Linked DNA regions of Homo sapiens: region 1 is linked to region 2. Evidence: fine-mapped expression QTL. A gene starts in region 2. The other region holds a variant in brackets. All regions are shown on one strand. Distances are from middle to middle.

What was found. PIP is the estimated chance that this variant, and not a neighbour inherited with it, causes the effect.
Region 1: its variant is the best candidate, but not a certain one, in a credible set for the expression of RHPN1 in whole blood (INTERVAL, PIP 0.56).

What each region holds. Positions count from the first base shown.
Region 1 is chr8:143,337,006-143,341,332 of GRCh38, reverse strand. It overlaps a transcript of TOP1MT not described here. Among named protein-coding and RNA genes, the nearest start is that of TOP1MT, 4.3 kb to the right of the region's middle. RefSeq lists an enhancer at 1,459-2,196. The variant C/T (reference allele first, on the strand shown) is at 1,999.
Region 2 is chr8:143,366,636-143,371,065 of GRCh38, reverse strand. RHPN1 (rhophilin Rho GTPase binding protein 1) reads right to left here and starts at 2,190. Exons shown (of 15, transcript NM_052924.3): 1 at 2,019-2,190. The coding sequence starts at 2,078. RHPN1-AS1 (RHPN1 antisense RNA 1) reads left to right here and starts at 2,431. Exons shown (of 1, transcript NR_026785.1): 1 at 2,431-4,430. RefSeq lists enhancers at 122-1,028, 1,029-1,936, 2,677-3,232 and silencers at 1,724-1,773, 1,974-2,433, 2,444-2,513.

The DNA.
Region 1 (4,327 bases), 30 kb after region 2:
CAGGCGGTGCCCAGCCGGAAGGGGGCTCTGGAAGAGGACCTGGACTGTGAGCTCACAGACACTGGCCGGGGCAAGGGCTGTGTGGAAGAGAGGCACAAACTGAGAAAAAAAAAAGAATATCCGAAGAGAAAGGGGAGAAAGGGCTTCAGGACAAACGTGTGGGGAGATGCACTGGGGCGGCAGCACGAGAAGAGGGTGGCGGGGACGCTAGGGGCAAGCCTGAGACCCTCAGCTGTGGGGAGCGGAAGAGTGCAGGGGCCGCCGTGGGAGCTGGGGAGGAGCGCGCTCTGGGCAGTGGGATAGACAGAGCAGTTCCCACAGAAGAGGTGCGAAGCGTGGCCAGGAGCAGGTGCACAGTGAGGGCATGGTGCCCACCCCAGCACGGAGGACGAGCCAGGGCCACACTGAGCAGAAAGGAGAGTTACGGGCCAGGAGACAAGCACAGAACGAGGACGAGGATGTAAAAGAAGTGTGGGTGGGAAAAACCAAGAAAGAAGAAAGTGACAAATTAGGTAGTGGCACAAAAGTGGGACAGGAGGCCTTGGTTTCCAGAAAAGAAAAGAAGAGGGAGACAGACAAAGCTGGGGAAGAGGGGACTCGAAAACCAAAGAAATGAAAAGCTCAGGACCTGGAGGAAGACAGAGAAGTGCAGTGTGGGAGTGAGCTGGACGGGGCACCACAGCCAGCGGCGTGGCCTCGCCATTGCCCTGGGGCAAAGGGTGACTGGGAGGTGGGGGGCCTGGTGAAGAAGCCCCAAGAAGAGAAAGCTCAGGGCAGCCGGAAGCCAGCCAGAAGCAGAGAGAAGTGGAAGGAGGGGGAGCCAGTTGATGCTGGGGTGTCCAGAGGGAGAGAAGAAAGATGGCCAGGAGGCAGCTAAGCCACAGGAGGAGAGCCAGAAAGGGTGGGAGAAGGCCGAAGGCAGCAGGTGGAAATGGTGTGTACCCTACCCCACCCCTTCTCTCCCTCCATGTCCTGACGGGGTGGTGGGAATGCTGTGTAGACCAGTGCTGGGAGGGGGGGAATGCTGTGCAGACCGGTGCTGGGAGGGGGGAATGCTGTGTAGACCAGTGCTGGGAGTGTGGGAATGCTGTGTAGACCAGTGCTGGGAGGGGGGGAATGCTGTGTAGACCAGTGCTGGGAGTGGGGGAATGCTGTGTAGACCAGTGCTGGGAGTGGGGGAATGCTGTGTAGACCAGTGCTGGGAGTGGGGGAATGCTGTGTAGACCAGTGCTGGGAGTGGGGGAATGCTGTGTAGACCAGTGCTGGGACGGGGGAATGCTGTGTAGACCAGTGCTGGGACGGGGGAATGCTGTGTAGACCAGTGCTGGGAGTGGGGGAATGCTGTGTAGACCAGTGCTGGGACGGGGGAATGCTGTGTAGACCAGTGCTGGGAGTGGGGTAATGCTGTGTAGACCAGTGCTGGGACGGGGGGAATGCTGTGTAGACCAGTGCTGGGAGTGGGGGAATGCTGTGTAGACCAGTGCTGGGACGGGGGGAATGCTGTGTAGACCAGTGCTGGCAGGGGTGGAATGCTGTGTAGATCAGCGCTGGGAGCAGGGGAATGCAGTTTAGACCAGCACAGGCCCACTTCCCCTCCCTGTCCCTGGTGGGGGAGGCGGGGAGTGCTGTGTAGACCAGTGCTGGGAATGTGGGAATGCTACAGTGCTGGCCTTTGCCTGCCCACTGTAGGTTGCCAGGGAGCCTGGGTGCCCCCCAGAGTGCCCTCTTGCATCGGCAGCTTTGAGCTGTGGGTTGTAGGGTACTGGGAGCAGCCAGCAGTAAGTGAGTGTTTGCTGTGTGTCTGGCATTGCTTTTGGTCAGTCCTCTATGAAGTAGGTACTGCTATGTCCATTTTTCAGATGAGGAAACTGAGGTACAAAAAGGTTAAGTAACCGGGCCAAGGTCACATGGCCACAAGTGGGCCACACTGCAGTTGTAGCCGTCACCCCTGCTGTGTCCTGTACGCAGCCACGAGCTGCGCAGCTCTCCCAGTGGAGA[C/T]GTGCTGGGGGTGTGATACGCACGCCTGCTTTGAGAAGAACGATGCATACCATCGCATTAGCATATTATGTTGAATGACAGTATTTTGGTTGAAATAGTTGAAATTAAGTATATTGTTAAGGTCAAAGTCACTGTTTCTTTTGCAGTGTGGCTTCTGGATGGGGTAAACTCCACCACTGCTCGCAGCTGTGTCTGCTGGGCGGCGCCGCCTCCCACCTGGGCAGTCCCTGCATAGCCTTGGAGCTCCGGCTTCTGGGTGGGAAACGTCTTTATAGGTATCAGCTCCTGCATTCAGCACCTGTTTGATTCTGGGGAAATTCTTTAAATTTTCTAAGCCTAGTTTCTCTCATGCAAAACAGGGGTCCTCCTACCTGCTGTGAGGAAGAGTGCGTGAAGCCCTGTCCCCGCTCCCTTGGGCAACCCCTGAGTGGCCTGGGGAAGAAGAGGGCACAAGGGGAGGAGGCCGCCAACCCCAGGAATATTGGCAGACAGTTCATAGAAACCCCTTCTGGTCTGCAGGCCCAGACTCCCCAACTGTGTCTCTGGCCTTGTGCAGTGGGTGCCACTTTTCCACGCCCTCCCCAGCATGTTGACTGCAGCCACCCAGGTGTGAGGTGACCTCACTGTGGGTTGGATTTGCATTTCTCCCATGGCTGATGATTTTGAGCATCTTTTTACAGGATTGTTGGCCTTTTATATCTCATCTTTGGAGAAATGTCTATTTAGATTATTTATCCCCCTTTTTAAAATTAACATTTTTTTTTTTTTGAGACGGAGTCTCATTTTGTTGCCCAGGCTGGAGTGCAATGGTGCGATCTCAGCTCACCACAGCCTCCACCTCCCGGGTTCAAGTGATTCTCCTGTTTCAGCCTCCCGAGTAGCTGGGATTACAGGCATGAGCCACCACGCCTAGCTAATTTTGAATTTTTAGTAGAGACGGGGTTTCTCCATGTTGGTCAGGCTGGTCCTGAACTCCCGACCTCAGGTGATCCGCCCGCCTTGGCCTCCCAAAGTGCTGAGATTACAGGCGTGAGCCACCAAGCCCAGCCAAAAAAAAAATTTTTTTTTAAGAGATGGAGCCTGTTGTTCAGGCTGGAGTGCAGTAGCCTGATCATAGCTCACTGCAGTCTTGAACTCCTGGGTTCAAGCAATCCTCCCACTCAGCCCCCTGAGTAGCTAGGACTACTGTAGCAGGACACGTTGCAGACAAAACCTCTCGGACACCGGTTTTAGGGAATAAGAGGTTTTAATCAGCTGGGAGCATCAGTAGAATCGCCTCTCAAGATCCGGGCTCCCCGAGGTCCAGATTCCTGTCCCTTTTAAGGGCTTACAACTCTAAGGGGTCCATGTGAAAGGGCCGTGATACATTGTGCAAGTGGGGGCTACGTAACTGGGGCCGCATGCACCGGTGATCAGAACAGAACCAAACAGGGAGTTACGCAATGCTTCCTCATAAGAAGTCTGGAATCTGTAGATAACAGAAGCGATTAGGTCCGGGCCGATCTTTAACTACCAGGCCTGGGGTGTGGCGCCGGGCTGTTTGACTATTGAATTTCACTTCTGCCTTTTCTTTAACTCCTACTTTTTCTTTTCTTTGAGGCAGAAATTAGGCAGAAGACAATATGAGAGGTGGTCTCCTCCCTTACTACAGGTGTACACCATCATGCCTGGCTAATTTAAAAATCTTTAGTACAGATGGGGTCTTGCTGTGTTCCCTGGGCCAGTTTTGAAGTTTTGAAATCAGCAAGTATGAATCCTCCAACTTTGTTATTCTTTTTCAAACATTGTTTTGGCTATTCTGGGTCCCTTGTATTTCCCTGTGAATTTTAGGATCAGGTTGTCAATTTCTGTAAAAACGCCAGCTGGAATTTAGATGGGGATTGTATTGAGTTTTTGGATCAGTTTGGGGAGTATTGCCGTCTTTTTTTTTGAGACGGAGTCTTGCTCTGTTGCCCACGCTGGAGTGTAGTAGCGTGATCTCGGCTCACTGCAAGCTCTGCCTCCTGGGTTCACGCCATTCTCCTGCCTCAGCCTCCCAAATAGCTGGGACTACAGGCGCCTGCTATCATGCCAGGCTAATTTTTTTAGTAGAGACGTTTTAGCCAGGATGGTCTCGATCTGACCTCGTGATCCGCCCGTCTCGGCCTCCCAAAGTGCTGGGATTACAGGCGTGAGCCACTGCACCTGGCCAATGCTGTCTTAACCATATGAAATCATCCAGTCCGTGAACATGGGATGGCTGCTCATTTATTTAGGCTGTCTTTAATTTCTTTGGGCAATGTTTTACAGTTTTCAGAGTATAAGCTTGATACTTCCTTTGTTAAATTTA
Region 2 (4,430 bases):
CAATCTACCTGGGCAGGGGCCTGGGAACCTGTAACCAGCACCCAGAGGGTGCTCCTGTCCAGCCAGGCTGGGGAACCTCAGGCTGACCCACTCGGCATGCTGGAGACCAGGTGAGGGGGGCACAGCCACCCTGCCCACCTGCTGCTCCAACGCTCTCCCTCTGCAGCCTGCTCCCCCTTCTCCCACTGGCCTCCCCAGGAAACCACAGAACCTTCTGCATACAGCCAGGCTGTATTCCTTGTGGTCCTCCCCCGGGAGCCCCTGCAGCCCCTGCGGGAGGGACGGCAGCTGGGTTGGCCACCCTGGGCCGTGCCAGGCTTCTCCCCTTCCCAGCTTGGCAGCCTTGGCCACTTACTCACCCTGTTCATCAGACGGGCTGAGGCCCAGGGCTTGGGAGGCACCAATGGCAGGACTCCAGCTGTAGCACTGGCCCTGGCACCAGGTAAGCGCTTGCTGGAAGCCTGCTCTCATCACGCCTGGGGCAAATACAAGTCACCCAGACCTGTCCACAGGGCCTCAGGCCCAGGTGTGGCCTCTAAGTGGATGAACGACCGACCCCTGACCCACTGAACTCTGAGCTTTAGGGCCAGTTTGGGGGCCAGCCTGATGGGGGTGGAACAGGCCTCACTCTAGCCCGGCAGCAGGCATCGGGGAAGACTTTCCAGATGGCAGGACAGCCTGAGTGGTGCGCGTGTGACACAGGGCCTGCCTCCGCCCCACTGCCACCTCCCACGGGCCCCTCCCCAGTACCCTGACTGTGGGGTCATTTCTGGACGCTGTGAGAGACACGGCAGCCTGGAAACAGCTTCTCCCCAACTTTCCAAGGTGGCAGCCCAGGGAGGGCCAGGACAGGGAGCCCAGGCACAGCCCCCAGCCTGAAAAGCGTCACCTCCGGAGCCCTCTGGGACATCTTGTTTGTACAGCCTCCCAAACATTCCACCCAAAACAACATGTGCCGTCCCAGGCCACCTGCAGGCATGGCCGCCCTGACAGAGCAAGTTCATAGGGGGCAGGCACAGGCTGCCTCTTTCCCTCCAGTGCCCAGGAGGTGCTGCAGCCTCTGGCACGCCTCGGGGTGGGCAAGAAGGGCGTCCTTGAGGGCTACGGTCAGCATCACCAGCCCAGTGACCTGAAGCCAAACCCTGGCTGATAGCACCGCCTCCTCCTCTAGGAGACCTAACCCCAAACACCAAAGCCGAGTAGAACCAGCCCAGGGACAACACAGTCTGACGTCCCAGAGGGGAGGAGGGCCGCGCGCTATCAAAGGCTCACCCGGGGCGAGGAGCAGGAGCAGCCCGCGGCTGAAAGCCCGTGGCGGGCGTGGGCGCCCAGGGCCTGGCAGGAGGACTGGGGCAGCCTCGAGCTGGTCCGCAGGGAACAAGCAGGCTCTGGGCTGCAGAGCAAGGCCCACAGACGTCCCCTCCTTCCCAGGCACAGACTCAGCAGGTCTCCACAGCCCTGCCCACCCCTCCCACTTGCCCAGTCAGCACCCCGGGTTAGGGACTTCAGAAGGGAAGGAGGTTTGGGAAGTGAGAAGAGGCCAGCCGGGAAGACCTCTCTCGGTTTCCCATACCCAGGAGGCTTCGCTGCCCGCTGCTACCAGTGCACCCAATGGGCATGCAGTTCCTGAGCGGATGCAGAGGGAGGACCGAACTAGGGAAGGAGGCTGTACAGGTGCCGGAAAGGAACACGATGGCGGGTGTGGGGAGGGCGCTCACAGAGCCCAGCCCCACATCCGCCCAGAAGGGGGACACGAGGAGGGCGTCCCCCCAACCCGCTTCAGCGGTGAGGATGATCCAGACTTTGGCTGTCCGCATTTCCCGGCTCACATGAGTGGCCTGGAAGCACCTCCACCGAGCTCAGAGGAGGAGGGACGCAGGCTCTGGCCTCAGTTTCCCTGCCTGCGTCCGGGCCGAATGAGACGTAGGAGGGGGGCGCCCGGAACGCGCCTCGAGGGGGGGCAGGAAAAGGCCGGGATTCCGGGCCCCTCCTCCCGCCGCCGCGCCAGTTCTGCGCACCTGCAGCCGCGGGCTCTCCTCGCCGGCGCCCGCGCCGTCCGGCCTCTCCTCCAGGATCATCGCCGCACCCGCTGCGCTGGGGGTCCCTCGGGGTCAGCCAGCCCGCCGCTCGCGCAGCGCTCCGCAGCCGGGCTAGGGCCGCCCGCACCACCTGGGCCGCGGGCTCCTGAGTGCCCGCGCCGGTCCCCGACTGTCCCTCCTGAGTGGGGGCGGCCCGCGGCGCGGCTGGGCGGGGCACGGGTCTGGCGTGCGAAGCTGGCCATTGCCCAATAGGCGGCAATGCCGCTTCGACGGACAGCTATATCAGCCAACCAGAGTTCCAGGAAGGCGGGCTCTGGACGGCCAGCTCCGCCCGCCCGCGGGACGGTAACCCCTGGCAACCGCGGCCGGAACGCCCGCGGCTGGCTGGCAGGTTGTACTGCGCATGCGCCGCGGCGGCCGCTGAGCGTGCGGGAGAAGTTCGGGAAACGGAGAAAAAAACTATACGGAACGTCCCAAGCTGAGAGTCAGGGCGGACCTGGACTCGGCGCGCCTAGCTCCTCGGCTCCCTTTGCGGGGACTCCAGGAGTCTGCCCGCTCGCGCCGTTTCGTCCTGTCACCCCGGCAACGGGACCCTCTAAGAGGCTTGTTCCAAAAATGTTCACAATGGGGTTTTTAAAAACGGTTTTGTTAGGGACAAGTGCTTGTGTGAGTCCTCCGACAATGCCTGCTTTCTTCTCTCTGCCCGCGGAGCGGAGGCTCCAGGCCTGGCCCCAGTCCGAGGCGCCTCTGTCGGTGTCGTCCTGCTTCCAAAACCGGCCTCCAGAACCCGCCTCCTTCCAGAACCTCCGTCCAGAACCCGCCTCCCTCCAGAACCTCCGTACAGAACCCACATCCTTCTAGCACCTGCCTCTGGAACCCACGTGCTTTCAGAACTACCTGTTTGTAGAACTTGTTTCCAGAACGAACCTGCTTTCCGAATCTCTTTACTTCCAGAGCTTGTTTCCTGGACTGACCTATTTTCAGAACCTACTTTCAAAACCAGCTTGCCTCCAGGACCACCTGCTTGGAGAACTGGCCTGCAGCCCCAGGACTGGACGACCTGAGACTGCACAGCTCCCTGCGGGGCTCACCCGGCTGTGTGTGTCCTTCCGGGCCTTCCATACTTCCCTAGGTGTCTGGTGACTCCGGAGCCCGCTCGGATTTCGTGTGGGTCTCGCCTCAGCTCAGAACACACCCTTTGAAGAGCAGGAAGGCCAGGGCACAGGCGGTAACCACGGCTCCTGGTCATCAAGTTCCTCTGAAGCCCAGGTCTTGTCCACGTTCACTGCCCCACCACAGGCCCAGCGGAGCCTTGGAGCTGAGCCCTGGGATCATTCTGGTGCCTGTGCTCCCGGCTCCGCAACAAGCACACAGGAGCCTGTCATCCCCAGATCTAAATCCTGAAGGCTAAGCTCCGTGGTCTGCCGCAGCCATCTGCAGCAGGCCCCTCCCAGCAACAGCCTTCTCATAAGGCCCCTGCCAGCCACGCGAAACCTCCTGGCTAGGGCCTGTCTTCCACTCCTGGCCTTTTGAGACAGGGCCTCACTCTGTTCCCCAGGCCGGAGTGCAGTGGTACGATCACAGCTCACTGCAGCCTCCACCTCCTGGGCTCATGTGATCCTCCCACCTCAGCCTCCTGAATAGCTGGGACTACAGGCTTGCACCACCACACCCGGCTAATTTTTGTATATTTTGTAGAGACAGGGTTTCGCCACATTGCCCAGGCCCAGGCTGGTCTCAAACTTCTGGGCTCAAGCAATTCATCTGCCTCAACCTCCCAAAAGTGCTGGATTACAGGGATGAGCCACCATACCCGGCTTTTTTTTTTCTTTCTCCTGGCCTTTTGGGGCCCTTGAAGTGTCTGCTCCCTGGGAGCCCTTCAGCTTGTCGTCCACTTGGTGGGTTCCCACCCGTCCTTCTCACTTCTGCCTGAATCACACAGGCTACATGAGACCTTCACCCACCCCCTTCGCCAGCAGCTCTGTGGTTCAAGTTTCCTCAAGGTTAGGGGCTCCTGGCCATCTTACCTGTGGGCCTGAGCATGGGCCGATGCTTCCAAAGTTCACACTGGGTGCACTTGTGTGGGGACTTCCATGTGAGTCATCTCCTTGCAGGCTGCCAAGGTCCTGTACAGCAGAGACCCAAACCCTCTTAGCAGTCTTCAGAGTCAGCTATGTGTACAGGAGGCATTACCATATCAGTGACTGTCAGCAAGCATGTGTGACTGAAATGGTATCCAGTTCTTACGTATTTGTTTTGCAGGCTTCTTGGTTCAGCAGACAGAGGCCATTGGGAAGTTAAGAGAGGCTCTCAAACTTTGAGGGTCATAAGACTTCCCCTCCCTGCAGGGTGCTGTTTCCTGAAGGAAAATATTCAATTACTATTTTCTTT